Regions from separate parts of the Homo sapiens genome. Here all the other regions are linked to region 1. The links come from fine-mapping of genetic effects on gene expression. A gene starts in region 1. Each other region holds a variant in brackets. All regions are shown on one strand. Distances are between the middles of the regions.

What was found. PIP is the estimated chance that this variant, and not a neighbour inherited with it, causes the effect.
Region 2: its variant is fine-mapped to the expression of RUNDC3B in CD4 T cells (BLUEPRINT, PIP 0.91).
Region 3: its variant is fine-mapped to the expression of RUNDC3B in blood mononuclear cells (TOPMed, PIP 0.98).
Region 4: its variant is fine-mapped to the expression of RUNDC3B in sun-exposed skin (GTEx, PIP 0.97).

Annotation. Positions count from the first base shown.
Region 1 is chr7:87,624,357-87,632,465 of GRCh38, forward strand. RUNDC3B (RUN domain containing 3B) reads left to right here and starts at 4,042. Exons shown (of 11, transcript NM_001134405.2): 1 at 4,042-4,589. The coding sequence starts at 4,468. It also overlaps a transcript of ABCB1 not described here. RefSeq lists an enhancer at 3,797-4,091 and silencers at 3,957-4,186, 4,237-4,286.
Region 2 is chr7:87,819,762-87,827,870 of GRCh38, forward strand. The region is part of intron 10 of RUNDC3B (RUN domain containing 3B); the gene reads left to right. Among named protein-coding and RNA genes, the nearest start is that of SLC25A40, 53 kb to the right of the region's middle. The variant T/C (reference allele first, on the strand shown) is at 4,030.
Region 3 is chr7:87,717,188-87,725,296 of GRCh38, forward strand. All of the region lies in intron 4 of RUNDC3B (RUN domain containing 3B), which reads left to right. Among named protein-coding and RNA genes, the nearest start is that of RUNDC3B, 93 kb to the left of the region's middle. The variant A/G (reference allele first, on the strand shown) is at 3,589.
Region 4 is chr7:88,147,771-88,155,879 of GRCh38, forward strand. ADAM22 (ADAM metallopeptidase domain 22) reads left to right here. Exons shown (of 32, transcript NM_001324418.2): 18 at 1,207-1,287; 19 at 3,211-3,261; 20 at 3,487-3,550; 21 at 5,451-5,556. All of the region lies in intron 2 of LOC105375386 (a long non-coding RNA gene), which reads right to left. Among named protein-coding and RNA genes, the nearest start is that of SRI-AS1, 65 kb to the right of the region's middle. The variant T/A (reference allele first, on the strand shown) is at 4,411.

The DNA.
Region 1 (8,109 bases):
CTGAGACTAGAATAAACTATGGTTTGGTGATCTCTCTGGTTTATAGCACTTTATATATACATTTTATAGTATTTTATATTTGAGGACATTTTATATGTTGCACTTGTAATTTTGTCTGTTTCGATGAGAAGAAGGAAGTTGGGAAAACGGTGAATGGGTATGTTCTGCCCATTCGGTTCTACAGAATTCCTATAAGTTAATTTAGGTATCTACTGTTTTCATAATTTTTACTGTGACTCTTTGTAAAATCTTTGAATACCTTTGTGCAATGCTTAAATAAATAAAAATAATTGAAATAGGTGCCAAAAGAAGTCCAAAAAGTAACGTGGACTCATGGAGTTCTATAATAGTATTATGCTGTGTACTGAATAAATTGATTGACAATATCCAGATTAGTAATCTAGAGGGAGAAAGAGACCCAGGACATACTACTTAGGATAAATGAGAAAAGCCTTATCAAATAAGGCCCCCATGTGGCAGTGTAATGACACTCCATACATGCAAAACAAAACAAAACAAAAAAGAAAAACACAGCTTGTTTATGGCAAAGTCTTGGTAAGCAAGTACTAACATGTCAACTAAATCCTTCTAAGAGTAACATTTGAAAAATAACGTTATGGCTGGGCGCGGCGGCTCACGCCTGTAATCCCAGCACTCTGGGAGGCCGAGAAGGGCGGATCACGAGGTCAGGAGATCGAGACCATCCTGGCTAACACGGTGAAACCCCGTCTCTACTAAAAATACAAAAAAATTAGCCGGGCGTGGTGGCAGGCGCCTGTAGTCCCAGCGACTCGGGAGGCTGAGGCAGGAGAACGGCATGAACCCGGGTGGCGGAACTTGCAGTAAGCGGAGATCCTGCCACTGCACTCCAGCCTGTGCGACTGAGCGAGACTGCGTCTCAAAAAAAAAAAAGAAAAAAGAAAAATAACACGATTACCTCATCATTTAAGATGGAGTTTTACTAAGTTTTCAGTCATAGTTCACAGTGAAAATAACATGAACATGTACTGGAGGCTAGGAAGCCAATTTTGAGGATATTAACATCTCACTTTTCTCGTTCTGTCATGACCACTCACTTTTATCTTCTTGATAAATGCTTCAGAGGCATGTGTGTTCTCTCCCTCACTCACGACACACCCAAGCATCGGTTTTTAGAAATTTTATTGATAACTGATGGTTTTCCACTCTTTTCTTTCTGCAGTTTTATCTGTGGTTAAATAATAACAACATCAATTTGAGTAGTATTTGTCATTGCCAGCGCAAATATTTTGCTGAGACTGCCTGCATAACCAGTGCATCTGTTTCCTGATGGCTACTTCTGAATCCAAACTGTTGAACTAGCAAGAAGAGACAAGTTAAGTTGTAGCTCCTAGGAAAAGAAGACTCTTTATAAGCCTCCGTGTCACAGGAGAGCAGACACGTAATGTTCTGGAAGAAGTGCACTGACTAGTCACAAACATCCATATATAGAAATTTCGCCTGCTTTTATTAACTTGAAAGATAAAGTGTAAAGTCTGACTAAATTGTTTTCTTAAAATTTTAATGTATGAATGAATATTTATCATAGCACATTAGTTAAGACTGACACTATATACGTATGGCTAGAGAGAGAGGAATATATATATATATATGTACATATATATGTATATGTACATATATATATATATAGAGAGAGAGAGAGAGAGAGAGATGGAGTCTCATTCTGTCGCCCAGGCTGAGACATATATATATATATATATATATTGTCATATATATGTGTCATATATATTGTCATATATATGTGTCATATATATTGTCATATATATGTGTCATATATATTGTCATATATATGTGTCATATATATGTCATATATATGTGTCATATATATGTCATATATATGTGTCATATATATGTCATATATATGTGTCATATATGTGTCATATATATGTGTCATATATGTGTCATATATATGTGTCGTATATGTGTCATATATATGTGTCGTATATGTGTCATATATATGTGTCATATATATGTGTCATATGTATGTGTCATATATATGTGTCATATGTATGTGTCATATATATGTGTCATATGTATGTGTCATATATGTGTCATATATATGTGTCATATATGTGTCATATATATGTGTCATATATATGTGTCATATATGTGTCATATATATGTGTCATATATATGTGTCATATATGTGTCATATATATGTGTCATATATATGTGTCATATATATGTGTCATATATATGTGTCATATATATGTGTCATATATATGTGTCATATATATGTGTCATATATATGTGTCATATATATGTGTCATATATATGTGTCATATATATGTGTCATATATATGTGTCATATATATGTGTCATATATATGTGTCATATATATGTGTCATATATATGTCATATATATGTCATATATATGTCAGAGAGAGAGAGAGAGAGAGAGATGGAGTCTCACTCTGTCGCCCAGGCTGGAGTGCACTGGCGCAGTCTCCGCTCACTGCAACCTCCGCCTCCCGGGTTCAAACGATTCTCCTGCCTCAGCCTACCGAGTAGCTGCCACTACAGGCGCGTGCCACCACACCCGGCTAATTTTTGTATTTTTAGTAGAGATGGGGTTTCACTATGTTGGTCAGGCTGGTCTCGAACTCCTGACCTCGTGATCCGCCCGCCTCAGCCTCCCAAAGTGCTGGGATTACAGGCGTCAGCCACCGCGCCCAGCCCATATATTTTTATTCTACTAAACAGAATAGTAGAATAAAATTAGACATGGTAGCTGAAAAGGATGATTTTTTGACTATTTTAAATAGAGATTTTTAAACTTTAAAAACCTCAGAAATTAGGAATTTACAACTTTATTACACAAACGTGCGTTGTTAAAACATTCAAGAGTAACAGTATGCCCTGCATTAACAGGGATAATATATAAGAAAAATAGAGATAGCCACACAAAACTATATATTCTCTGACATTCTTTGACAGAAACTTCAAAAGTAGAGGTGAAAGATACATGGATTTTGGAGCCACTGAAGCCGTGAAATTTCAGTAAAAATTATGTCAAATGTGACTTCAAATTAAATTCGAGAAACATTTATTGAGAACCTGTTCTATGTACAGCACTGTGCTAGGTCCCATAGGGAGAGTAAGTCATTTAGGATTGCACTCTAAAATCTGGGCATATTGGTGCAAAGGGAGGTGAACAGCAGGCGTAGGTGAGTGTCAGAGGACCTGACCCAAGCTGGGACCCTCCTGCAGGTAAAACGGTGGGTAGTGAGAAGCTCTAGGAAGGGGGCGCTTCCGAACACGCGCGTCGAGGAGGGCGTTCCAGGACTCTGAGGGAGCAGCCCAGCTGGACCGAGGCCGCGTCGTTCCTGGGCTTACTATTCCCAGACCCGGACTCCCGATTCCGGAGTCACGGCCCAGGACGCGAAAAGACTCTACACTGGCACCACGCTCCTCCTTAGGCGGGCCGTCAGTCCCGGGTGCGGGCTGCGCTGGAGGCTGAGGTGGGAGCGACATGGTGTGGAGGGGCAAGAAATGTCGGCACTAGACGCGCCAAGAAGGAGATTCTACGAGCAATTCCCCCCTCGGGCCATTGTGTTGCTGTTTATTAGCCCCTGGGAGGGCGTCAGGACAAAAGGAACCCTCCTCCCTTCTTAGTACTTAGGCCCAAGGTCGGGTGTGGGAGCCGGCGCGCTGCTTTCTAGGCAGGCACTGAAGCTACGGCAGCCACGCAAATAGGTATCAGCCGTTAAAGCTTGGCTACAGGCAAGGGGGGGGCAATAGGCCCCTGGCGCTGTGGGGCCCCGCATCCCACAATCCCCGCGGCTAGCCTGTGTGGCTACTGGCGGCAGCTAGCGGGCTGCGAAAGCGAGCCCAGCGTCCTTGACAGCAGCCCACGCGTCGGGGCGGGGCTTGAGCCCGCTGCTTTAAAAGGTCCGCGCGGCCGGCCCCGCCCCTCTGGTGCCGCGATTGGATCCGGCGGGGGTAGCGTTGATTTGATAGGCGCAGAGAGGGTGGGGCTGCGCACGCGAGGCCGGGGGCCTTGCCGCTGCCTCCCGGGCTGGGGCACGAGTGGCTGCGGAGTGTGGGTGGTTGGGCGTGAGGGGCCGACGGGCTCGCGCGCGCGCCGTCTGCTGAGGTCCCTCGGGAAGGAGGAGAGCGCCTGACGCCGACCCGCAGGCGCAGCCCGGCAGTCGGCGGCGCGCCGAGGGCGGAGGTGGTGCGTGCGTGCGTGTGTGTGTGTGTGTGTGTGTGTGTGTGTGTGTGTGTGTGGAGCTCGGGTGCCAAGGGCGAGCCGTCAGTCCCCGGGTGCGAGTCCCTGCTGTCTTCCACACCCTTCCTCCCTCCAGGCTCCTTTCCTACATCCTTCCCGCGCCCCCACGGTTGCGGACCGAGCGAGAACCCCCTTAAGCAGGTGTGGGGGGCGTGCGGGGTGGCACGAGACAAAAGGGGCACGGGGGTAAGCCCGCCATGGCCTCCCGGAGCCTGGGGGGCCTGAGCGGGATCCGCGGCGGTGGCGGCGGAGGCGGCAAGAAAAGCCTGAGCGCCCGCAATGCTGCGGTGGAGAGGAGGAACCTGATCACCGTGTGCAGGTACGGCAGCGCAGGGCGAGGGGAACCAGCCTCCCGCCGGGGCTGAGAGCTCTGGGCTTCCGCGCGGGTCCTTGGGGGTCCCGGGCATGATGGGCTGCCGCCCAGTGCCCCCGCCTATGTTGCGCCAGCCAAATCTGTGAGCGCGCAGCTCCTTGGACAGGGGCCCGGGTCTGGACACCGTCGCAGCCCTGGACTTTGTGTCAGTTCCAGTGCTGAAGGTACTGGAGGGTAGAGCTTGGGGCGGGGCTGGAGGAGGATTTGTTTTGAATGTGCAATCTAGCGTCAGAGTGAAAGAGGAGGGCAAGGAAGAAGAGCTCTTTCATTTAATGCCCATTCAGCTGTCAGCGAGCTTTGGATAAAGTGGTAGTTACTGTGATTGTTTACTGTGTTGCCCCCAAATCAGAGTGCATTTCGTTGTTTTGGCTTGTTTACATTATCTTCAGCCATTTCATTTCACACGTTAGTTGAGTGCCTACTACATGCCAGCCATTGTGTATGTGAGCGTGTGTGTACTATCCACTTTTCAGCTACAGTGCTAGTGCTGGTTCTGCAGTTGTTATTAAGAGTGGGACTGTGGAGGATACCTAGTCTTTATGTCAATGATTTATTTTAAGGCCTGCCTTTCCTTAATGCTTTATAACTGTAAATGTAGTATTTCCTTCAGAAAAATATAGAAACAATAAAAGAATAATTACTATTGGGCCGGGCGCGGTGGCTTACACCTGTAATCCTAGCACTTTGGGAGGCTGAGGCGGGCGGATCACGAGGTCGGAGTTCGAGACCAGCCTGGCCAACATAGTGAAACCTCGTCTCTACTAAAAATACAAAAAATTAGCCGGGCGTGGTGGCGGGCTCCTGTAATCCCAGCTACTCGGGAGGGTGAGGCAGGAGAATCGATTGAACCTGGGAGGCGGTTGCAATGAGCTGAGATAACGTCATTGCACTCCAGCCGGGACCACAGGGGGAGACTTCGTCAAAAAAAAAAAAAAAGAACTATTTATAGTAAGCCTAGTATTCAGAGATAACTGGTTTTTAACATGCTGATATATTTTCTTTAAGTCTTATATCTGAGTATTAAGAAAAATTGAAACCCTAAGCATCAATTTCTTAGGAACTTCTCTGAGCCATTAAGTTGTTTTAAAATTACTTTCCTCCATCAGACTCCTAATCATCACCTAGTGATATTCCTCTTAAGAATCAGATGATGATGAAACTTTTTCTTCCTTTGCAATTTCTCTGTATTTTTCCGTTATTTTTCTTGTGTAAAAATGTGTCTAGCATCTTAAGTGGAATACAGATAATTATTCCAGGACTTAAATGCAATAACTCACAGTGACTTTTTAAAAAATACTTGAATTATTACAAATGTTTATCTAGCAAGAAGACCTTCTTCATTGACTGTATTTGTATAATGTAATTATTACAGCACTTTGAGTTGTAAATGGTAAAGTAATATGGTATCCGTTTAATTTGCCGTTTGTGCTGTCTAGGATGTAACTTTTTGAGACAAATAGGCTGTTAGGTGTTTTAAAATATAGGTAAATATCTTTAAAGTAGGTAAATGGAACCATAAGCAAGGCTGATTTTCTTAACCATAATATACAGACATCAAAAATTGCTTTAAAAATAAGGGTAGTTTCAACATATACAGTGCTTCTTGGGGGGTAACATATTTAATAAAAGCTCTATCAGCTTTTGTTAAACTTCACAAGGGCAGTGATTCTATCTGCTTTTTGCTTAGTCTTTTTTTTTTTTTCTTTCAAATTCTCAGTATAGCATCTAACACTCAAAAAATATTTATTGAATGAATAATTTCAGTGATGGGTACTGTTCCTTTTGCTTCTCCATTTTTGTCTTGGCTGGCTTTAGGTCATGTAATGATCATGTGTGCCCTTATCAGAGACAGTTGAAAAGAAAAGGATTTGTATTTCAACCTTATTTAAACTAAATTTTAAATTATCTTTAAGAAATTTTAGGAACGTCACACTGATTTCTGGGGACAGCTCTCTGTATTAGTTGTATTTTCATGATTGTAATTTACATAATTATTATTTTCTACTGTGAAATGAATATGTGCTAACTTTAGTTACAGTTTACACATAGATTTAGTGTAATAGCTAAAATAAGTTGTGGTTTCTGCTCTGGATTTCATTTGTATTGTTATTTATATGGATAATATTAAGGCTGTTTTTCAGATCCAAATAGTTGATGGTGCATGTAAATTATCCATGTGTAGTAATGGGGTCTATATGATAGGCTTTGTCTGAATGACTTTTACTTTTTGGAAGAAAGTCACTATAGGCCATTTGTACATTTTAAGTATCCCCATGACAAATTAAGAAAAATGAATAAAGCAGTATTTATGCATTTATTGCTAGTTTACTTTCCAGAGTCACCAAACCCTGGGTATTTCACTCATGTCTCTTATGAATTCTTTTTTTAATTTTTTATTTATTTATTTTTGAGACGGAGTCTCGCTCTGTCTCCCAGGCTGGAGAGCAGTGGCGCGATCTCGGCTCACTGCAAGCTCCGCCTCCCGGGTTCACGCCATTCTCCTGCCTCAGCCTCCTGAGTAGCTGGGACTACAGGCGCCCGCCACCACGCCCGGCTAATTTTTTGTGTTTTGTTTAGTAGAGACGGGGTTTCACCGTATTAGCCAGGATGGTCTCGATCTGCTGACCTCGTGATCCGCCCGCCTCGGCCTCCCAAAGTGCTGGGATTACAGGCGTGAGCCACCTTGCGCCCGGCCTCTTTATTTTTATATCTCAAATCAGAGATGATTTGATATTTAAGTTGGAAAGAAGTTGATCTGGTGGAAATATAACTGGGTTCTAGGTTGACTTTATCATTAACTAGTGTGCACTTTTACAAGCCATGCAACCTTTCCATTTGTTCATTTTTGTTGTCTGTAAAATAATATTGGACTAGATCATTGTTAACCTTCAATTATAGGCTTAAAATTAATAATAGCCTCCAAGCAAAAAATGTTTATATTTAGTTTTGAATTTTTCCAAATATGAGCAGGGTAATAATGATAAGATAAATGTTTATAATAGCTAAATTACGTATGTGCATTTTTCTCTATAAACAAAAATATTTTGGACTGTGCCTTTGATTTTGTAATTCTCTGCTGATGTTCTGGAAAAAATTGAACCATTTACAAAACCAAAAAAAAAAAAAGTCACCAGCATATATCATTCTAGTGTATCCACTTATACTTTCACAGTAATGTTTTTCCTTACCCCTTAAACAATTTAGGTGTATTCTCAGTTTAGGTTTAAAGTCTTCTTATGTGAGTACACAATTCTTTATGTTTAAAGCTTTATTCAAGTGCAATATATAGTTTTGAGCTTTGAAAGTGGGTTGTTTAGATAGGTAAGATAATCAGATAAAGAGCTGAATTGAATTTTGGCTCATGTGTGATTGTATATGTGTATGTAATTCATTAGTTTTTTTTAGTGAACATTTACATGTTGTAGACTAAAAACATTTGCATAGTCCTTATTTCATCAGATAAGTA
Region 2 (8,109 bases), 200 kb after region 1:
CTGAACAACCTGCTCCTGAGTGACTACTGGGTACATAACGAAATGAAGGCAGAAATAAAGATGTTCTTTGAAACCAACGAGAACAAAGACCCAACATACCAGAATCTCTGGGACACATTCAAAGCAGTGTGTAGAGGGAAATTTATAGCACTAAATGCCCACAAGAGAAAGCAGGAAAGATCCAAAATTGACACCCTAACATCACAATTAAAAGAACTAGAAAAGCAAGAGCAAACACATTCAAAAGCTAGCAGAAGGTAAGAAATAACTAAAATCAGAGCGGAACTGAAGGAAATAGAGACACAAAAAACCCTTCAAAAAATTAATGAATCCAGGAACTGGTTTTTTGAAAACATCAACAAAATCGTTAGACCGCTAGCAAGAATAATAAAGAAGAAAAGAGAGAAGAATCAAATAGATGCAATAAAAAATGATAAAGGGGATATCACCACCGATCTCACAGAAATACAAACTACCATCAGAGAATACTACAAACACCTCTACACAAATAAACTAGAAAATCTAGAAGAAATGGATAAATTCCTCGACACATACACCATCCCATGACTAAACCAGGAAGAAGTTTAATCTCTGAATAGACCAATAACAGGATCTGAAATTGTGACAATAATCAATAGCTTACCAACCAAAAAGAGTCCAGGACCAGATGGATTCACAGCTGAATTCTACCAGAGGTACAAGGAGGAACTGGTACCATTCCTTCTGAAACTATTCCAATCAATAGAAAAAGAGAGAATCCTCCCTAACTCATTTTATGAGGCCAGCATCATCCTGATACCAAAGCCGGGCAGAGACACAACCAAAAAAGAGAATTCTAGACCAATATCCTTGATGAACATTGATGCAAAAATCCTCAATAAAATACTAGCAAACCGAATCCAGCAGCACATCAAAAAGCTTATCCACCATGATCAAGTGGGCTTCATCCCTGGGATGCAAGGCTGGTTCAACATACGCAAATCAATAAATGTAATCCAGCATATAAACAGAACCAAAGACAAAAACCACATGATTATCTCAATAGATGCAGAAAAGGCCTTTGACAAAATTCAACAGCCCTTCATGCTAAAAACTCTCAATAAATTAGGTATTGATGGGACATATCTCAAAATAATAAAGAGCTATCTATGACAAACCCACAGCCAATATCATACTGAATGGGCAAAAACTGGAAGCATTCCCTTTGAAAACTGGCACAAGACAGGGATGCCCTCTCTCACCACTCCTATTCAACATAGTGTTGGAAGTTCTGGCCAGGGCAATTAGGCAGGAGAAGGAAATAAAGGGTATTCAATTAGGAAAAGAGGAAGTCAAATTGTCCCTGTTTGCAGATGACATGATTGTATATCTAGAAAACCCCATTGTCTCAGCCCAAAATCTCCTTAAGCTGATAAGCAACTTCAGCAAAGTCTCAGGATACAAAATCAATGTACAAAACTCACAAGCATTCTTATACACCAATAACAGACAAACAGAGAGCGAAATCATGAGTGAACTCCCATTCACAATTGCTTCAAAGAGAATAAAATACTTAGGAATCCAACTTACAAGGGATGTGAAGGACCTTTTCAAGCAGAACTACAAACCACTGCTCAATGAAATAAAAGAGGATACAAACAAATGGAAGAACACTCCATGCTCATGGGTAGGAAGAGTCAATATTGTGAAAATGGCCATACTGCCCAAGGTAATTTACAGATTCAATGCCACCCCCATCAAGCTACCAATGACTTTCTTCACAGAATTGGAAAAAACTACTTTAAAGTTCATGTGGAATCAAAAAAGAGCCCGCATCGCCAAGTCAATCCTAAGCCAAAAGAACAAAGCCAGAGGCATCACGCTACCTGACTTCAAACTATACTACAATGCTACAGTAACCAAAACAGCATGGTACTGGTACCAAAACAGAGATATAGATCAATGGAACAGAACAGAACCCTCAGAAATAATGCCGCATATCTACAACCATCTGATCTTTGACAAACCTGACAAAAACCAGCAATGGGGAAAGGATTCCCTATTTAATAAATGGTGCTGGGAAAACTGGCTAGCCATATGTAGAAAGCTGAAACTGGATCCCTTCCTTACACCTTATACAAAAATTAATTCAAGATGGATTAAAGACTTACATGTTAGACCTGAAACCATAAAAACCCTAGAAGAAAACCTAGGCAATACCATTCAGGACATAGGCATGGGCAAGGACTTCATGTCTAAAACACCAAAAGCAATGGCAACAAAAGCCAAAATTGACAAATGGGATCTAATTAAACTAAAGAGCTTCTGCACAGCAAAAGAAACTACCATCAGAGTGAACAGGCAACCTACAAAATGGGAGAAAATTTCCGCAACCTACTCATCTGACAAAGGACTAATATCCAGAATCTACAATGAACTCAAACAAATTTACAAGAAAAAAACAACCCCATCAAAAAGTGGGCGAAGGACATGAACAGACACTTCTCAAAAGAAGACATTTATGCAGCCAAAAAACACATGAAAAAATGCTCATCATCACTGGCCATCAGAGAAATGCAAGTCAAAACCACAATGAGATACCGTCTCACACCAGTTAGAATGGCGATCATTAAAAAGTCAGGAAACAACAGGTGCTGGAGAGGATGTGGAAAAATAGGAACACTTTTACACTGTTGGTGGAACTGTAAACTAGTTCAACCATTGTGGAAGTCAGTGTGGCTATTCCTCAGGGATCTAGAACTAGAAATACCATTTGACCCATCCATCCCATTACTGGGTATATACCCAAAGGACTATAAATCATGCTGCTATAAAGACACATGCACACATATGTTTATAGCGGCACTATTCACAATAGCAAAGACTTGGAACCAAGCCAAATGTCCAACAACAATAGACTGGATTAAGAAAATGTGGCACATATACACCATGGAATACTATGCAGCCATAAAAAATTGAGAGTTCATGTCCTTTATAGGGACATGGATGAAACTGGAAACCATCATTCTCAGCAAACTATCGCAAGGACAAAAAACCAAACACTGCATGTTCTCACTCATAGGTGGGAATTGAACAATGAGAACACATGGACACAAGAAGGGGAACATCACACTCCAGGGACTGTTGTGGGGTAGGGGTAGTGGGGAGGGATAGCATTAGGAGATATACCTAATGCTAAATGACGAGTTATTTGGTGCAGCACACCAACATGGCACATGTATACATATGTAACAAACCTGCACATTTTACACATGTACCCTAAAACTTAAAGTATAATAATAATAAAATAAAATTAAAAAAAAAGATCACATGTGTAAACAAGCTAGCTAGCTAAACTACTCTGCCTTTCTTTATTACTATTTTAATTTGTTTAACTAAAGGTAAAGGGATCAGGCCACCTTTAGCCAGATCTATTACCAAAGTTATGCAAACCTCTGGCCTTCCAAGATGATTTATGTCCATTTCTATAACTATCTGTAATATTTTTTCCACAAGCCTGATTGAACCCCAACAGGTACTCTTTTTAAAATTTCATAAACCATCCAAGTCACATAGCCCTTTCCATAGAAATCCTGAGGAGCAAACACACTGTCTATGCAAAACTATTTTTTTTCTTTCTTTAAAATTGAGTATCTTTATTTTTTATTTTTATTTTTTTTAATTTTTTTATTTCCATAAGTTATTGGGAAATAGGGGATGTTTGGTTACATGAGTAAGTTCTTTAGTGGTGATTTATGAGATTTTGGTGCACCCATCACCTGAGCAGTATACACTGCACCCAACTGTAGTCTTTTATCCCACATCCCCTTCCCACCCCTTTCCTCTCAGTCCCCAAACTCCTTTGTCTCTTTCTTATGCTTTTGCATCCTCATAGCTCAGCTGCCACTTATGAGTAAGAAAATACGATGTTTGGTTTTCCATTCCTGAGTTACTTCAGTTAGAATAATAGTCTCTAATCTCATCCAGGTTGCTGTAAATGCCATTAATTCATTCCTTTTTATGAATGAGTAGTATTCCATTTCATATATA[T/C]ACACACACACACACACACACACACACACACACATATATATATACACACTCACCTACATACATACATACATACCAGTTTCTGTATCCACTTGTTGATTGATGGGCATTTGGGTTCGTTATACCTTGCAAAACTAATTTTAAAAAATCACATAAATTGAGAAAAATAATTAAGCCAATGAACTTCACCACCCAGGAAAACAATAGTGAAGCAGGAAAAAAGATGTTATAAAGCCATATAATTTCTGTATCCTATTAAAGTAACTTTTAAAATTGATACATAATGGATATACATATTTTGGGGGTACATGTGATAATTTGATACTTTCATAAAATAAAATCATATAATTTTATTAAATATCCTCCAACAAGCAATTAGTCATAAGACAGAAACATTTCAAATTGGAAATCAAAACCTAAGAACATCAATGTCTAATAAAGAAGAAGAAATGACGTGTCATGTGAGGAACCCAGTGGGAGGTGATTGCATTATTGGGGCAAGTCTTTCCCAGGTTGTTCTCATGATAGTGAATGAGTCTCACAAGATCTGATGGTTTTAAAAAGGGGAGTTTCCCTGCACAAGCTCTCTTGTCTGCCACCATGTGAGATGTGCCTTTCACCTTCCACCATGATTGTGAGGCATCCCCAGTCACATGGAACTGTGAGTCCATTAAACCTCTTTTTTTCACAAATTGCCTAGTCTTGGGTACGTCTTATCAGCAGTGTGAAAGTGGACTAATATAGTAAATTGGTACCAGTAGAGTGGGGCACTGCTGAAAAGATACCCAAACATGTGGAAGGGACTTTGGAACTGGGTTAACAGGCAGAGGTTGGAACAGTTTGGAGAGCTCAGAAGAAGACAGGAAAATGTGGGAAAGTTTGGAACTTCCTAGAGACTTGTTGAATATCTTTGACCAAAATGCTGATAATGATATGGACAATGAAATCCAGGATGAGGTGGTCTCAGATGGAGATGAAGAACTTGTTGGGAACTGGAGCAAAGGTGACTCTTGTTATATTTTAGCAAAGAGACTGGCAGCATTTTGCCCCTGCCATAGAGACTTGTGGAACTTTGAACTTGAAAGAGATGATTTAGGGTATCTGGTGGAAGAAATTTCTAAGCAACAAAGCATTCAAGAGTGATTGGGTGCTGTTAAAGGCATTCAATTTATAAGGGAAGGAGAGCATAAAAGTTCAGAAAATTTGCAGCCTGACAATGTGATAGAAAAGAAAATACCTCCTGCACATGGTGAAACCCTGTCACTACTAAAAATACAAAAAAAAATTAGCTGGGCATGGTGGCGGGTGCCTGTAGTCCCAGCCACTTGGGAGGCTGAGGCAGAAGAAAGGCGTGAACCTGGGAGGTGGAGCTTGCAGTGAGCCGAAATCACACCACACTCCAGCCTGGGTGACAGAGCGAGACTCCATCTCAAAAAAAAAGAAAGAAAAAGAAAATACCATTTTCTGAGGAGAAACTCAAGCCAGCAGAGATTTGCATAAGTAACAAGGAGCCAAATGTTAATCCCCAAGACAATGGGAGAAATGTCTAAGCCCCAAGCCTTGGCAGCTTCCACGTGGTGTTGAGCCTGCAAGTGCACACAAGTCAAGAATTGGGGTTTGGGAACCTCTGCCTAGATTTCAGAAGATGTAGGGAAATACCTGGATGCCCAGGCAGAAGTTTGCTGCAGGGGTGGGGCCCTCATGAAGAACTTCTACCAGGGCAGTGCAGAAGGGAAATGTGGGGTCAGAACCCCCACACAGAGTCCCTACTGGGGCACCACCTAGTGGAGCTGTGAGAAAAGGACCACTGTCCTCCAGATCCCAGAATTGTAGATCCACTGACATCTTGCATCATCCACCCAGAAAAGCCACAGACACTTAGCACCAGCCTGTGAAGGCAGCCGGAAGCGAGGCTGTACTCTGCAAAACCACAGGGGTGGAGCTGCCCAAGACCATGGGAATCCATCCCTTGCATCAGCATGACCTGGATGTGAGACAGGGAGTCAAAGGAGATCATTTTGGAACCTTAAGATTTGTCTGCCCTGCTGGATTCTGGACTTTCTTGGGGTATGTAGCCCCTTTGTTTTGGCCAATTTCTCCAGTTTGGAACAGCTGTATCTACCCAGTTCCTGTACCCTCATTGTATCTAGGAAGTAACTAACTTGCTTTTGATTTATAGGCTCATAGGTAGAAGAAACTTGCCTTGTCTCAGATGACATTGGACTGTGGACTTTTGAATTGATGCTGAAATGAGTTAAGACTTTGAGGGACTGTTGGGAAGGCATGATTAGTTTTGAAATGTTAGGACATGAGACTTGGGAGGGGCCAGGGGAAGAATGATATGGTTTGGCTGTCCCCACCGAAATCTTATCTTGAATTGTAACTCTCACAATTCCCACGTCATGGGAGGAACCTGGTGGGAGGTGATTTAATTACGGGGGCAGATCTTTAGTGTGCTGTTCTCATGATAGTGAATGAGTCTCACGAAATCTGATGGTTTTCAAAAGGGGAGTTTCCCTGCATAAGCTCTCTTCTCTTGTCTGCTGCCATGTGAGATGTGCCTTTCACCTTCCACCATGATCATGAGGCTTCCCCAGTCACGTGAAGTGTGAATCCATTAAACCTCTTTATTTCATACATTTCCAAGTATCAAGTATGCCTTATCAGCAGCGTGAAAATGGACTAATACAAGGTATCTAAAGAAGAATGGATTTGAAAGAAAACTTAATCTAAAACACTGAAGAAAAATGGGAAAACAACCAAGAGAATGAAAATGAGATAAAGAAAGAAGTAAAATGAGTTAGGAAGTGGTTGAATTAGAAAGGCAAGAATATCAAATTTACATGTTTATAGAGTCACTGGAGAAGATAAAATAGTGGAACAGAACTAATACCAAAATCTATCATTCAAGAACAACGTTTGGAAGTAAATGAAGACATAATATACAAATTGAAAGATCTAACCAAGTACTAAAGAAAATTTGCCTGAAGTAATCACCTACAAGACAAATTCTACTAAAATTATTACATAGTAACAATAATGAAAACATACTGGTGACTTCCAGGCAAAAAGATGAAACAAACTAGAAAGGGAGAAAAGAATGAAGTTGGCATTAGATTTGTCTAGTTGTATAAAGGTAACAACTAGAACTAAAATACAAACCTTCCTAAATAATTTTTTTAAAGCAAATATGTCATCTAGAAAGAGAAGCATAGCAAATTTAACAAAGCAAAATAATTTGTCACAGCAGAGAGCCTATCAAAAGAAATTAATGAAATGGCAAACAACATATACCAAGGAGAGAAACAGTAAATATAACTATATACATAAAATTACAACAAAATTATGATTTATTCTGAATGGCTAAATATAAAGGAATAGACAAATATGTAACAGGCAAATAAAAATACAAACAAGGGGCCAGGCATGGTGGCTCATGCCTGTAATCCCAGCACTTTGGGAGGCTGAGGCGGGCAGATCACTTGAGGTCAGGAGTTCGAGACCAGCCTGACCAACATGGTGAAACACTGTCTCTATTAAAAATACAAAATTAGCCAGGTGCGGTGGTGGGCCCCTGTAATCCCAACTACTGGGGAGGCTGAGGCAGGTGAATTGCTTGAACCTGGGAGGCCGAGATTGCAGTGAGCTGAGACTGCGCCACTGCACTCAAGCCTGGGTGCTAGAGTGAGACTCTGTCTCAAAAACAAACAAACAAAACCAAAAAACACAAAGCAGGGTAGCAACCCTTATATCAGATGGGTAGATTTTAAACCAAAATGCATTAAGCATTACAAGGAAAGATATGTTTTAATGCTAAAAAAAATTAAGATATAACAGGATTATACAACAAATAATGATATCCCCCTTTATATAAGGAAACAGAAATCCAGTGACAGTTGAAGACATACTATTCTCAGTATAAGACAAATCAAATAGACAAAAAAGAATATAATACACCTAAACAACATAATTACTAGGGTATATCTTATGCTCTATGGAACTTTATAACCTGAAAATAGATAATATAACTTCTTCTTAAGTACAGATAGAACAGTCTCAAAAATGTTCAGAAGTTAGCTCATA
Region 3 (8,109 bases), 93 kb after region 1:
ATAATGGAGGTATTCTATATCAGGACACCTGTAATACATTCAAGAATGTAGCCAGAAAAAGTTTTATAGCCCTAAACCCTTTTATTAATAAAAATACAAATTATAAATGAATGAAATTTTCATGTTAAACAAGATAAGAAAAACAAACAGAAAAAATAAAGGAACAATAAAGCAAAAAATAAACAATATTTGCTTTATCAATTTATCTAAATTGAGAAACACATAATTACTAAATAAAAATAATATTTTTTGGTAAAAAATTTTCAAGAGAGACCAATTACTAGCTACCTTAACTGAGGTATATGTATAATAAAAGGACAAGGAGGAAGTAACCATTGACATGACATATGATGCATTTAAAAAATCCTACAATCTCTCTGTTATATATTTGAAAGATATAATGATAATTTCCTACAGAAATATAATTTGCCCAAATAGGCCCTACTATATGTAAAAAATTTAAATAAGCTAATTTCTCTATCAGGAAAAGAAAAATTTATCAAGACACTTCCTCAAAATCAATCATTAAGCCCAGATGATTTCAAGGAAGACTTGTATCAAAATTTCAAAGCCTGGATAGTCCCAATGATTTTGAAAATTTTTGCACCTTATAAAAAAGAAAATTTCAAAAAATTAAGGAAAATCTAATACTTTTTGTAAAGTAAGTATGACATTTATACCTAAACCTAATACAGTTAGAAAAGAAAATTATAGACAAATATCAGTTATTAATATTGATTGAAATGTAAAAATATTAGTAACAATATAACACATCATTAAGAAACTGATACATTTTGATCAAGTGTGATTTATTCTGGGAATATGATATTGATACAATATTAGGAAATTCATTGATATAAAAACCATATGAATCTTCTGGTTTGATGATTTGCTAGGAGGACTCATAGTCTTATTCATGGCTATCATATATTACAGTAAAAGGATGCAAAGCATATAAGTAAAGGGAAAAGGCATATGCGGCAATGTCCAGTGAAAAACAAGTATGAAAGTTTCTAGGAGTCCTTTCCCTGTGGAATCATATGGGCTGTGCTTAATTCCCTCAGCAACAACTTTGGACAACATACATGAAATGCTGTCCACCAGGGAAGCTCATTAGGGATTTAGTGCCTAGGGTTTCTATTAGGGGATAGTCAGGAGGCACCTTCTGCCTAGCACCTATCAAAATTCCAGACTCCTAGAAGGAAAGAAAAAGGTTAGCATAAACTACATTTTTTGTACAAGCAGTTTAGGCACAGTGAGCCATTCTTACCCATCAGAGTGATGGTAATCCTTCCAAAATCTAAGTTCTCAGCATCAGCCAAGCCTAATCTTTTAATCAGGCCTTTCGAAGGATAGAAATCAGGTCTGCTATATGTTAACTCTTTCTGCACACCATATTCATACATCTAAAAGTAAAAACCAGCTATTTTTCCTCTACAGAAGATGGAAAGTCCTTTACAAAATGTATGATTTATTCCTGAGAGATGAAAAAAAGTACAAAATTGTTAATTGATGTTTACTTTCTTAACATGATATGGGAATTTTATATAATCTTAGTCCTAGAATCAGTATTTTACTTAATTCAGAAACACTACTTGTATTTCCAATAAGATTTTAAAGAATGTATTGCACTCTTCTTACTAATGTTCAACTTAATAGTAGAGGTTAGCCAATTCAGTTAGACAAAATGAATCATTTAGAGACATAAGAATCAGAAACAAAAAGGAAAGCTATTTATATTTGTAGATGATAAGGTTTTGTAACTAGAAAACCGTAGAGATTCAGTAATAAAACTAAATTAAAATAAAACAATTCAACAGTACAGTAAACATTAAAATAGCATATCTAATACATATACACAAGTAACACATGTAACATAGTTACACAGGTAACATAACACAGGTAACACAGGTAACATAGTTACACAGGTAACATAATAACACATAAAATCAATATTCAACAATAACTATAAAATACTAAGAGATAAGTGTAAGAAGAAATGTGTAAAATCTACATGAAAAAAATTTAAAAGGCCTGAAAAATATAAAATTAAAATTATTAAAATGGGAAGAAGTCTTTTACTTTTGTGTGAGGTGCTTAAACTTTATAGAATACAGCTTAGCTCCCTATAAGTTAATTTATAATTTGGCTGCAATCTCTATGTTAATAAGTTTCTTTACATAATTAGACAAGTTGATACTGAAATTACATGTAAAAATAAACATACAAAATAAATATAAAAAATATACAAAAGAAATATAAACATATAAAAGTATACAAAATGTACAAAAATACACAAGTAAATATACAAAATTAACTTGGAAATACTAAAAAGAAAGCTGTAGTATAGGGGAAGAAATTAGCTTTACCCGATACTAAACATACTATATAAAAACCTTACAATTAAAACTGTGCATTGGTGCATGCAGACATACAGTGAAATAGGATAAAGAAGTAGTTATATAATAGAAATAAATGCAAGTAAAAAATAAACTTTAGTTTATGATAAAGGTAGAATCTTAAAACACTGAGGTGATGAGGAGATTTGTAATGCATAGCTCTGGGATCAATCAATCAATCAGTTTGCCATTTTGAAAAAGACATAATTAAATCCCTTCTCACATTATATAAAATAATAATTAAAATAAATGTAGTATTTACTTTTTTAAAGAAATCAAAACATTTCAGGATGAGATAAAACAGAGATGAATTTCTATATAACCCTATGTAGGTAAAATTCTTCTAAGTCTGAATAAAATTTCAGAGGTAATGAAAAAAATTAGTGGAACATTTGACTACATCCAAAAAAAAAAAAAAAAGAGAAAGAAAAACTTTGCAAAGCAAAAACACCATATAGAAACATCAAAATACAATTGAAAAACTGGGAGAAAATATTTGCAACATTATTTTAACAATAAAAGACTTTTTTAATTAATACAAATTGGGAGGAAAAGACTAAAAATTTGATAGAAACATAAGGGCAGAGATGTAAACTGACAACTCACAAGAATATGTCAAAAGCTCTTAGACATATGAACATTTATTTAACTTTTCTTATTATAAGGGAATTATCAATATAAACTGAGATATTATTTCTTTTATGTCATTTTAGCCAAGTTTAGATAGAAAGATGAGAGAGAGAGACAGACAGGCTGATGGAGGAGTTACAGCACTCTTTGGTGAGGATATGTGGAAAATGCACTCCCATGAACTTCTGAGGAAATGCACATTCCTAAAGAAGGATTTTTGGTTTTATCCAAAAAATCTACATAGTAACTTACGGCTAAGCAATTTCACTTCCACAAATCTAAGCAAAAGATAGGATATCACAAATTTAAGCAGAAGATAGGATATATGTGTGTGTGTGTGTGTGTGTGTGTGTGTGTGTATGCAATAATTATAATTTTCTTTTTTTTTTTCTTTTCTTTTTTTTAGACAGAGTCTCACTCTGTCACCCAGGCCAGAGTGCAGTGGTGAGCTCTGGCTCACTGCAGCCTCCACCTCCTGGGTTCAAATGATTCTCCTGACTCAGCCTCCTGAGTAGCTGGGACTACAGACGCGTGCCACCACGCCCTGCTAATTTTTTGT[A/G]TTTTTAGTAGAGACAGGGTTTCACCATGTCAGTCAGGATGGTCTCGATCTCCTAACCTCATGATCCACCTGCCTTGGCCTCCCAAAGTGCTGGGATTACAGGCGTGAGCCCTCGTGTTTGGACATTTAGCTAATTTTTAACTATAATATTTTAAATAGTTAAAATTAGCTATTTTAACTATTTAAAATATTATAGTTTAAAATTAGCTAAATGTCCAATTAAATGTATAATTTAAAATATTATAGTTAAAATTAGCTAAATGTCAAAACAAAGGAGATTGACTAAATCAGAAATGTATGCAGACACAGAGTACTATGTAACTGTAAAAAAAGAAAATTTTAAGTTAATAGAGTATGATTATATTATAATTGTATATATAATTATAATATGTAGCAGGCTATTTTTAGGTAAAATAAAAGTATAAAAAAACTATACTCTATGTTGTGTTTAAAAATGGGAGGAGATAATAAAACATTCTGGTGGCTCCTCTAAAATCAAAAGTGGGAATACTAAGCCAGAAAGCAGAGGTGGATGGGAACATAGTGAAAATAATAGAATGAAGGGGGTAACATGTCAGTTCTCTGAATATACATTATGGTATGCTTCTGATAATTGGAACCATGTAAATATTTCACGTATGAGAGAGTGTGAGAGAACAAAAATAATCAATAATTATGGCAAAGGTACCATAAATAAAATTCAAACAGAAATAGATGAACCAAACTAAATTCAAATAAATAATATGATCACCCTGAAATGGCTAATGAACTAACCCAGCTAAAGCATGAGGACTACATTTGGACTATATACCTTCAAGCTCAAAACAAACACACTTTTAAACAAATATTAAAGTCTAGTTAGGAAGATTTTTGCAGAATTTAGGTTAGCATTTCTGAAATTTTTTATTGCACTTTCTAAGATTGAGCAAGCAGTTAAATATAACATGAATAATTAGATCTTATTTCTCACTGTTATGCTCCTATTCTAACATTCTCTTTCTCTCTCTCTCTCTCTCTGTCTCTGTCTCTCTCTCTCTCTGATCTCATCTGTTTCTTTGAGTTCTGCTTGAACTTTTGGAATATTTTCTGTGTATTTCATGGGATATTATTAGTTATTTTATAGCGTTGCATTTTTTATTATTTCTGTAAAATGTTACCTTTATTTGCCTTTCCAAGTCTTGTCTTACATTATCACATTTTTTAAATTAAGAAACTCTCATTTTTAAATTCCGGAAACAAAATTTATCTTTTGTTCATTCTGTTTCATCAACACAGCAATAATAATTCCTTCTGCCTGTCTTTCCTTTAATTTTTTTTTTAAATTACTTGATTAGTAATTGTACTTGATGTTTTGATATATATTCATCATTTAATGATTATATCAAGCTAAGTAACATATCTATCACCTCTTATACTTATCATTTTTTGTAGTGAGGACATTTAAAATCTACTTTTTCAGTAATTTTGAAATATACAATATATTATTATTAACTATTGTCACCATTCTGTACAGTAGATCTCAAAATCTTATTCCTCTTCCCTAACTGAAATTTTGTACCTTTGATCAACACCTCCCATGCCCCTACCCCCCAGCCTCTGGTAACCACTATTCTGGTCTCTACTTTTATAAGGTCAACATTTTAAAGTTCACATGTAAGTGAGATAATGAAGTAATTGTATTTCTTTTAAACTATTCTGGCCCCTTAACCCACTTGTGAGTTTATCTGAACTTGGTTTCAAAACATGTGAGATCACTTAACAGACAAGAAAGTTAGTATGAGTGTACTGAGATTAGCAGAGGGAAGAATGTGCAACAGAAAGTAAGGAGATTACCATAATTCCTTTGACGAGTTGGGGCATCTCTTATGAAGAGTACCAAGTGGGGCCTCCATTCTCAAGGCTAAGCAGTAATGAACCTTCAGCAGCTCAGCACTACCAACTCTCTTTTTCTGCTGCTGGAATCAGTGAAATTATTTGATTCTTTCATTGGGCAACAAGTAGGCACAAGCATACTCTCTTTGCTTATTGAACTAGTTGGTATCGTTGAGAAATCAAGGGACTTGACAACTTCACAGTGTGTTCCACTGGAGAGTTAAAACTATTTCCGATTCACTGAGTCCAAGTGCAATTTCACCAACCTCTCTTCCTCAGGCACCACAAACAAACGCATCTTACACTGCAAGCTTTTCTCAAGAACGTGAAGTTGTAGTTCCATATTGTTTTTTTCTGCAGATTCTCACAGTTGTCAATGATAATGTGAATAATAATGGATTCCTTTTAACAAGAAAAATAAAAGATTGAAACAAATGAAGCACAAAAATATGAAACATAAAAGTAGGAGAATGCAATTAATTCAGCTAAACAGTAAAATTAATGGATTTTTAACTATTGAAATTAAAAGTGACCTGAATAGATAAATAAAATAGACAAATACCTAATAAGTACAGAATAATTCAACCAAAATAAAGAAATGTCTGTCAGAAGAAGGGATATATAATCACAATAGAATAAAGACTAAAATATTTGGAAATTTAGAGAAAATGGGTAATATTCAAAAAATAGTTAATTTTTAAAAATGTAGAATACTGAGACATACAGTAATAACAATATCCTCCATCAGGAAGTTGTTTAGAAATGCCCATTAGTAAATAAGTTATAACTACCTTATGATTCTTTTGAGAATTTTAGTTAAGTTTCAAAGAACAGAAATGTCCAATGCAATGCAAATGTTCACAGCCTACAGAAAAATACCAATCCATCATTAGGCTAATGTCACAGGTTGACAAAGATAATACATATGCTGTATAAATACATTTTAGTTATTAGTTTAATTATTAAAAATGAGTAAAATTACACTGAATTGAAGGTAAAAGAGTTTAAATAATGTAATTCACCATATTCAACTAAGGTTTAGCTGATATAAATACAAGACTAGGATTGTGCATTTCATATAAAAATATTTCCTGTTTCAGGTGCCTTGTTAACCCAAATTAATCAGTTATGTTATAAACACATAGTTAAGAGCTGAAAATATTTGACAAAAATCAGCCAATATTTAAAAAAAAAGTGAAATTGGAATATAGGAAAAATGTCCAAATATGATAAAGCGTCTTTGCCAACATTTAATCGTACACATCATAATAAAAGTAAAACATTAAATTCAAGGCCAGGCATGGTGGCTCACGCCTGTAATTCCAGCACTTTGGGAGGCTGAAGCAGGAGAACCATTTGAGCCCAGGAGTTGGAGACCAGCCTGGGCAACATAGTGGGATCCCATCTGTAAAAAAAAATTTAAAAACCACGTGGGTGTGGTAGTGCCTGCCTCTACTCTCAGCTACTCAAGAGGCTGAAGTGGGAGGATTGCTTGAGATTGGAAGGTCAAGGCTACAGTGAGCCTTGATCACACCATTTTACTCCAGCCTAGGTGACTGAGTGAGACCCTGTCTCTCTGAGTCCCCTGAAACCATGTCACCTGCCGTGGGGATACCAAGAACTCTTTGCTAGATTTCAGGGAAGCAGGTTATAAGACCAGGATAATGCTATGCTAAAAGCAGGGATAGTTGTGTATTTTATAGAAAAACATTTCAGGATATTATTTCAATATTTTGGATTGTTTCTAAATTTAAGGCTAAGTCTAAAATATATTTAGATTATTAAAGATGGAAGTTTATTTCAATATTCTGTATATTTAAATGACTAATATTTAGTTTTACAAACCAGAATTTTCAAGATAAATCTCAATTTCACAGTGAAAAAAATAATCACTTGTGATTTAAATGAAATTTCATTAGTTAAAAAATTTTCTTCCTGAATCTGTAATAGAAAATAATAATAATAATAAAAATTCTACCACCTTGAATGAATTTCATTTTGGCATCCTAAAATCCATACATACAGCCAGGTTTCTTGTCATAGTAATCAAAATAATCTGCCATTTTCATTTCACTACAGTAGGACACTTCTATTTTTATACCTGATCTTCATAATCATTATTTTAATTACATGTATAATAGTTCATAGTATTTGTGTATTATGATTTAACACTCAACATTAGATTACTTCGAATTTTCAAATTTTACTTGATACATATTATTGAGTAATATTTTTGTGATAATTTACTTTTGTTTTTGAGTGATTTTTTGAAAATATAGAAAAGAAATAATTATTCATTTGAATTATTAATATTACAATAATAAATTAATTTTCATATCAATAAAAAACAAAGGCTTATGACTCTTGCTAGTCAAAGCCATTTTATTTAACAGAACTGTGCATTTTATAAGCCCTTGAAGTAAATATTTATACTAATTTTAATGTGATTGTTTTTTATTATACTTTAAGTTCTAGGGTACATGTGCACAACGTGCAGGTTTGTTACATATGTATACATGTGGCATGTTGGTGTGCTGCACCCATTAACTTGTCATTTACATTAGGTATATCTCCTAATGCTTTCCCTCCCCACTCCCCGCACCCCACAACAGGCCCCGGTGTGTGATGTTCTCCTTCCTGTGTCCAAGC
Region 4 (8,109 bases), 520 kb after region 1:
CACTCCTCTAAACTACCCCAAATTTGCTCATATTTCTACCCTAGATATTCTAAAATGTTGGCTTGTCTTAGTCCCAAGGAAGAAGAGAAACGTGAAATTAAATTTTCTTATTTCCTTATTTTTAACCCACATTAAGATGCAAGTTCCTGATGAGCAGGGTTCTTGTGTTTTGTTCTCCATTGAGTTCCCAGTAGTTAGAACAGTGCTTGGCACGTTATTAAATATTTGATGAATGGATGAATGAATACATATTTTGTTTGGGTCTTCTAAAAAAAAATACTTGTTGAAATCCAGATTGGAGTTTATAGTGGGCAGTGCATGTTCTAGGAACAGCAGGAGACTCAAATGCCTGTAGAGTTCTGAGCAGCTAGAGAAGATAAAGCTTATCTAGAAAGTGAGGGAAGCAGAATAACATGTGCCTTTGTGTGAGCAGACACAAAGCATGTAAGGATACAGCCCTGAATGCTAACATTTTGGATAGAGAAAAAGAGAAGGATTGAGAAGGGAAGGGGAAGTACTTTAACTATATATCTCAGGTCTGTTTCATTTTAATGAGTACTCCTGCAATTCACATTTTTAACCTAATGAAGTTAAACATTTATTTGTATAACTCTCACACTTGCAAGAAGTATTTGAGATGATGGAAAACAGAAAAACAAAAATGCCTATATGAAGACTTAAATAATAGAAACACTAGAAAATAATAAAAGACCAAGATCTAAATCCATGTAAAAATGAGGCAGGGGAGAAGAAGGGTAGAAGAAACATGGGAGGAAATAGCTTTGTCAGAAAATCTAATTTTTGTGGTTCAACCCAAAATGTAATTTTTTGATTCTTGGTAGATAAGGCAGAAAAGGATAATGTGATAAAAGTGTCGGTGAGAATGAAGAGTAAAGGGTAAATTCAAAAGCTATTAGTACAGAAAAATTACTAGAACCTGGACTAACTGGCCTGTCTTGTGGAATTTAGCAGTATAATATAAGGCTTATGTGTAATGACTATGGAAATTACATCATACACAAGAAACTGTTTCTTAAAACTATTAAAATAAAATTTTTTTCAGTAACTGTGGTTTTGACAGATTACCATCTTACAGTAGTTTAAGGTATTTCTAGCCAAACAATTTTCATTTTGTTTTTTTTAGATGATATTGTAAGATTTTTTTTTCTCCCTACAGTTTCACACGTTGATTTTTGTTCATTTTAGTTTCAGCCTATGGGCACTGTGTGCCGAGAAGCAGTAAATGATTGTGATATTCGTGAAACGTGCTCAGGAAATTCAAGCCAGGTAATTTACAAAATAACTGCTCTAAAACTTATGGGAAAAAGTGGGGGTATCTTTAGTGCACTGACCCTCAAAGAGAAATGTAAATGAACAAGATGCTCGTGTCTCTTTCACATCATTTCTCCATTTTTTTTAGGAATTTAAGTTTCAGTGATTGAAGCTTGAGCAGATTTTGAACATAATTTTGTCTTAACGTTGAACTAACCTCAGACTGCGTGCATGCCTTAACTATTTTGTTTTTGTATTAAGTAGGTAGTACAAGGCATTTTCTTTTCATCTACTTAGTAAAGGAAGAAACAAATAAACTCTCTTCAGCTGATTGAACAAGAAGTCAGTGGAGGCAGGGACTCACAAACACACTGGATTCTTAGAGAGGACCCTTTTCTTTCTCTTGACTCTTATCTATGATAGCTTGCATCGCCTCAGCCATCAATAGCTGCTCTTGAATTTTATAGCACTTAGTTATAGATAGACAAGCTAGAGAAATTGAATAAACTTTGGTGGGAGTTCACAGATTTCAAAATGGTCACTGTACATACAGACGGTCCTCACTTTGAAGGGTAGTGCCAAACCATAAAAATGACCATGCAAGCTGAGACTATGCAAAGTCATTTTAATAATCAAAGGAAAATACTGCACTTGTTTTGCAGTCCTCAAAAAATGCTGTCAGATTATTAAAAACTCTCTTACTGTTGGTTTTAAATGGATAGGAAGGTGAAAGAATAGTATTTATTTAGCATACTGTACATTAAAAGAGAAACATTGAGAATTAAAGGATTTTATTTCTTTGTAAAAACCTTAGGAGTAGTTTGAATAGAGCTTGCCTTCTTATAAGCTTTATGATATAGAGTGAGCATATTTTCTATGCCTTGTTGAACTGTCACACCCTTTTCTAAGTTTGGATCAGCTTTCAACATTTTACAACATTTTATTCTTTGTGCTTTCAATGTCATGAGATATCCCTGAGAGATGTGAAGATGTGAATGTGAAGTTTCTTGCTGGCGTTACCCCCTCTGGGACATCGTCACCTATATGTCACAATCACCTTATTCACCGATGTCATTAAGTCCTCCTTCAGCAAGTTCCTCTGGTTGCATGTCTAGAGGCTCTTGAACAGCAATATTGACATTCCCACAGTCAGCAATTTTTTTCTGTAACTCCATTTACAAGTTCAATTTGCATTTCACTTCTGGTGTCATCACTTTTCTTTGCTGCACTTTCATCTCTGTTGGCCAGTTTCCTCTCTTGGTATTCCGTTTTTGCAAAATGGCACATGATATCATCAGAAGACAAAGAGGCAACATAATTGCATGCTTTGCTGTCTGTTTATACTCATTCAATATTGCCTTATAATTTTTCATAATTGCTGCAAGGAAAAAAGGATTATAAAGTGTGCCCTTTTCTGACATTCTTAAAGTGGACTTTGGCTTGAAAGTCATTATTTTTAGTATAAGGGCTATGTTTCTTCTCATGGCAAAAGAAAGGAAACTAGTTATTGCTCCATTTATGCAGACTTACTCTTTGTTTATTGTCCCCTTCTCTTTCTTGCTCTGAAAAATAGTATATCTGTATGAATCAAGATACTTTTAAATGTATCATTAATTGAGTCTATGGTAGTCAGTTCTTTTTATTTGCTGCTATGTAATCAACTGTTTTTGCCTCTGGTAGATTCATATTTTCAGGGGCAAGTGTACCCATTGTTTTTCCTCTTGCTTTCTCTTTTATTTTTTTAATTTATTTTTTACCAAATACCCAGACTTCAAGGACATCCACTTGCTCTTGACCTCCTTTGCATTTTGTTTTATAGATGGTATAAGGGACTAGCCATATTAACAAATATGTTTTTAAAAGTGAAAACATTAAAGGGTTTAGCTCAGCCTTATATTTTGCACTGCATTTCATTCATAGTTGTTCTCTTTTTCCTAGTGTGCCCCTAATATTCATAAAATGGATGGATATTCATGTGATGGTGTTCAGGTAGGTCACTTCATTTTTACCTATGTTTTTCACATGTACCAGCATGAAAGGAATACTGAAATCTTATCAAAATAGGAAGATCAATTTAAATGTTTGTAATCAATTCTGAAGATAAAAGGCCTCTCTACTATTCATCTATTATTTTTCCCAATCATAGTTTCTTTTTCAGTTATCTGACATAAGCAGATATTGCATCGCTAATGGGTATTTGCTTTTCCGTTTTAGGGAATTTGCTTTGGAGGAAGATGCAAAACCAGAGATAGACAATGCAAATACATTTGGGGGCAAAGTAAGTAAATAGTGTGGCTTGATCATTGTTAAAGCATGATGTCAGGCGGACTTCTCAAGGACGTGTGTGCTGGAAGTAAATTTTTGACTACTTTATGACTGGGGGATTCTCAAAGCTACCACAGGTCTTAGCAGGGGCATGTTTCTGGAAATTAGAGTAAGGCACCCCTTTGAGAAGCAGCCCCACACATCTTGGCTAGTTGGCAGTGCCTGTGGACGAGACAGAAAGTGCCTTTGCTGCCAGGCAGATGGAGCCCATGCCAGGGTGCACAGCTTGGAGAATAGAGCAAACCTGGATTTCAGCTCCATGTATACTCTTCTCAGCTGAGTGCCCTGAAGCTAAAGCTTCACAACCATATGGGATGGACGTGGACCCTGGACAGGACGTCCTTAACTTAGAACAGCAGCATTTTATCTAGAGTCATTTTTTTCCTCCTTGGATATTTTTCTTAAACTCTAGTTGGCTTTCCTAGTTACGCACTTCTGCTAAAGTGGCTTTGCTGTATCAGAAAGAAATGTTAATGTTTAGCCTTTAAAGTCTGTCAGATTTTCAAAGGAAAATATATGATATTTAGATTTAAATTATACTCTATTTAAATGTTTATTTAAATGTTGAGTAATGTATTGTTTCCTAGAAGTACTACTAGCCCAAACTTTTGGAAGCAGTTTTTGTTTTAAACTGTTTCAGGAGACAATTTGTAGTAGGAAAAAGGCTATAAAAATAATGATAATTCTTAATAGTTATAAGTAGGTGCCACAATCCTTTTAGGAGGGGAAGTGTATGCTCTCTTTAAGCAATTGGAAACATTGGGATGGGAAAACATTTAGTCAGGCAGGTTTGTACTCCGAAAAAAGATATCA[T/A]TTTTGTTTTATCCACTTGAGCAAAAATAGTAGCTGACAACAAGAAGTAGGAAACATAACTACCGACATAACTATTGTTTTTTTTAAAAATATACCAACAATTATCCTTTGATTAGTTTGCATTTTGTCCTAATTCTTAGATAACTCTATCAACTGTCCCTGGTTTTAGAAAAGATAAAAGCCTGAAAAAGATACTGATATACCTTAAAATGTTATTTGACTTCCAGAGATTTAGCATGAATTCAAGCTTGTCTTAAAGCAAAGTAAAATTGCTTTTGATAGCTGCTAAGAAGTGGGGAGCAAGGTAGAAATTGTACCACTGTTTCTTGAATCTAATTACAGGATATAACTATTATAATAAACTTGTCTTTATGATTAACAAAATATGCTGAATGAGAAATTCATGTATTATATTTAGCACTGAGATTAAAGAATAGAGTATATATTCAAGGAAATATTTGTTATTGCCTTCCCTAATTATTGGCCAAATTCTTTTGTTGTTGTTGTTGTTGTTGTTGAGATGGAGTCTTGCTTTGTTGCCAGGCTGGAGTGCAGTGATGTGATCTCAGCTCACTGCACCCTCTGCCTCCCGGGTTCAAGCGATTTCCCTGCCTCAGCCTCCCAAGTAGCTGGGACTACAGGTGCACACCACCACACCCAGCTAATTTTTTTTGTATTTTAGTAGAGACGGGGTTTCACCATGTTGGCCAGGGTGGTCTCGATCTCCTGACTTCATGATCTGCCCGAATTATTGGCCAAATTCTAAGGAGTGTTTGTTTTTGTAGCCTACAGCCTGAGTCCCAACAGAGAACTAAATACATTTGTTTACTAAATTTCAAATGAGCTTTAATGAAAACCTATCTGAGTCATGGATATATATGATCCATGGTAAAACTGTGAACCGTTCGTTGGTAACATTTTTGGAATTGATAACACTGTAGTGATGAAGAGTCCTTATATTACAATTTTTCTTTTCTGCAAAGCTTTTGAGCAGCCAAATCGTACTTCCCTCACTGATAGAAAATTTTTTTCTGCCTTAGAGGTGACAGCATCAGACAAATATTGCTATGAGAAACTGAATATTGAAGGGACGGAGAAGGGTAACTGTGGGAAAGACAAAGACACATGGATACAGTGCAACAAACGGTGAGGTGGAGACGTCAGCCCAGAATTCATCCCTTGGTCAATTACAAGTGTACTTTTTTGAGTGACTAGGAAGTTTCTGCTTTCTGCATCACACAAAGTGTGCTCTTGCCTCCTTAACCTCATCTCTTCCCAGTGTTCCAGCATCACCTGTGCAGAGGGCTTCCAAATCTTGAACATGTGTGCTCACCTCTCTCCTAAGGCCCAGGTCATACTTGCCCCCACCTCAGGATTTTCTTACCTAGAAGACACCTTTTAGCATCTCAAAGGCAAAAGAACTTAAAGCCACCAGAATATGCACTGAGTGCTGTTGAATTGAATTAACTGGCTCTAACTTTCCCAAACCACCCCCTTTTTGCCAAAGGTCTCAATATTTCACTGTCCTTCTGTCTAGAAGCCTTAAAGTGATCCTTCCCTCTACACATTGTCCAAATGCTAAATTACATCCATTCTTCCCTTTGCTTTGCCACCATTTGTCTTTAATTCATGTATTCACTTACGTTCCTATTACCATTACCTGAACTAAGACCTATATTAATCCTTCAACTATTACAAAATTCTTTTAACAGTTTTCTGTGCCAGCATTCCCTAGTGTACTACTATCAGAATAATCTTTTGGGTCTTTTTTACTGTCAATTCTTTGTTGAAAGTTCACTGGTTCCACATGACTAATTAATAGTGAGAACAGTACCCAGCACTGATTGAGTGAACACTGTGTGCTAAGCACTGTATCACACTTTACATAAGCTATGCCATTTAATCTTCATGGCAGTCCTCCCATTTTATGGAGGAGGAAACTGAGACACAGTTAATTTGTCCGAAGTCATGTATATGGGATGTAATAATAAGCAGAATTAGAATTTGGAGAGTATGATTTCAGAACTCTCTCTTCACCATTTTGCTGAATGTCATAGTCTTGTTAACAAATTAAATGGAACCTTAGCTTGGCACTGCACCTATTCAACAATTGTCCCCAACCTACACTTTTTGTCATTTCATTTATATTCTTCCAAATCTAGCAAACCTTACCATTCCGAATATGTCCCTACCTCCATGCCTACATTTATGCTCTATAATCCTCCAGAAGCACCCTTTAACTCATACCATCATCAGCCAAAAATATACCTATTCTTCAAAGCCCAGCTTGGGAAACACTTTCTATATATAAATTTCTTTATGATTTACTCTAGAAATAAATTATCTCTCTCTTCTTTGAACTTCCACAGCCCTTTGTACTTATTTGTCCGTAATTTTGTTTTATAAGTTGTTTATGTGTGTGATTTATCTTCTTATTTAGAGTATAATTTTCTTGTGAATAAAGATCATATCTAATTGTCTTTATATATCCTGATTACATAGGTTCATATACATAAATGACATTCAAAAAAGTTTTGAATGAATATCTCTTCTCTGTTGAGAAAGCATTTTTGTTTATGATAGATACAGTAAAATGATAACATAATTTTAAAAAGCATTTTTAAAGAATAAAGTAATACATTCTTTTCTATGTTGGTGAAAAATACAGGTTCTAATTTTTCTTTTTTCTCCATGTGGTAAAGTCTGATACTTTTGTATATAATCTTGCTGACTTACTAATTACTCTTCACAAGATATTTTAAAAATATGTTTATTGTTATCTCTACTAATAATTAAAATGTGTTGGATATAAATAATATGTAAGATAGTATTAACAACAGTAAAGATATTTTATAAGTTAAGTTAGAATCATATGTAATAGTTGGGGAAGTACTGAAATATATTGAAGAAAGGATAATGAGCCTTTGTAGTTGGCAGTCTGTAAAATAAATGCAGCCTATAATTTCTTCTTTAATTCTAGGGCAACAGGTTGAAAAAAACATCTGTATTCCAAAAGAATGCTCATCCAAATATCATTCAATTACCAATTAAAAAAAAAATTGTCTGGGCACAGCATCTCATGCTTATAATCCCAGTGCTTTGGGAGGGTGAGGAGGGAGGTTGCTTGGGGTCAGGAATTCAAGGCCAGCCTGGGCAACATAGTGAGACCCTGTCTCTGTGAAAAATTTAAAAGTTAGTTGGGTCTGGTAGCATACACCTGTAGTCCCAGCTACCTGGGAGGCTGAGGCAGGAGGACCACTGGAATCAGGAGTTTGAGGCTGCAGTGAGCCATGATTACACCACTACACTCCAACTTGGACAACAGAGTAAGACCCTGACTCTAAGAAAAAAAAAAAAAAAAGAAGAAGAAGAAGAAATAGATTAGTATATCCAGTATTGTGTTATGGGAAAAGAGATTTCAATATAAAAGAAGCCAATTTGATGGATTCTTTAAATACTTGAACTAATGGACAGTAAAGAAAAAGCTAGAAAACAATTGAGATTTTGGTACATCAGTAAGAGTTTCAGTGAAGACACTTTTTAGAGCAGGTGGCACACTAATTTGGACTTATTTTATTTCACTTGGCATATGAGTAGATAATATACTTGATGAAAACCAAATGCTAAAATGAGAGAAGATTATTCTAACTGTACATGGTTTGCTATATATTTGGGAAAAGAAGTAATTGGTAATCTTTT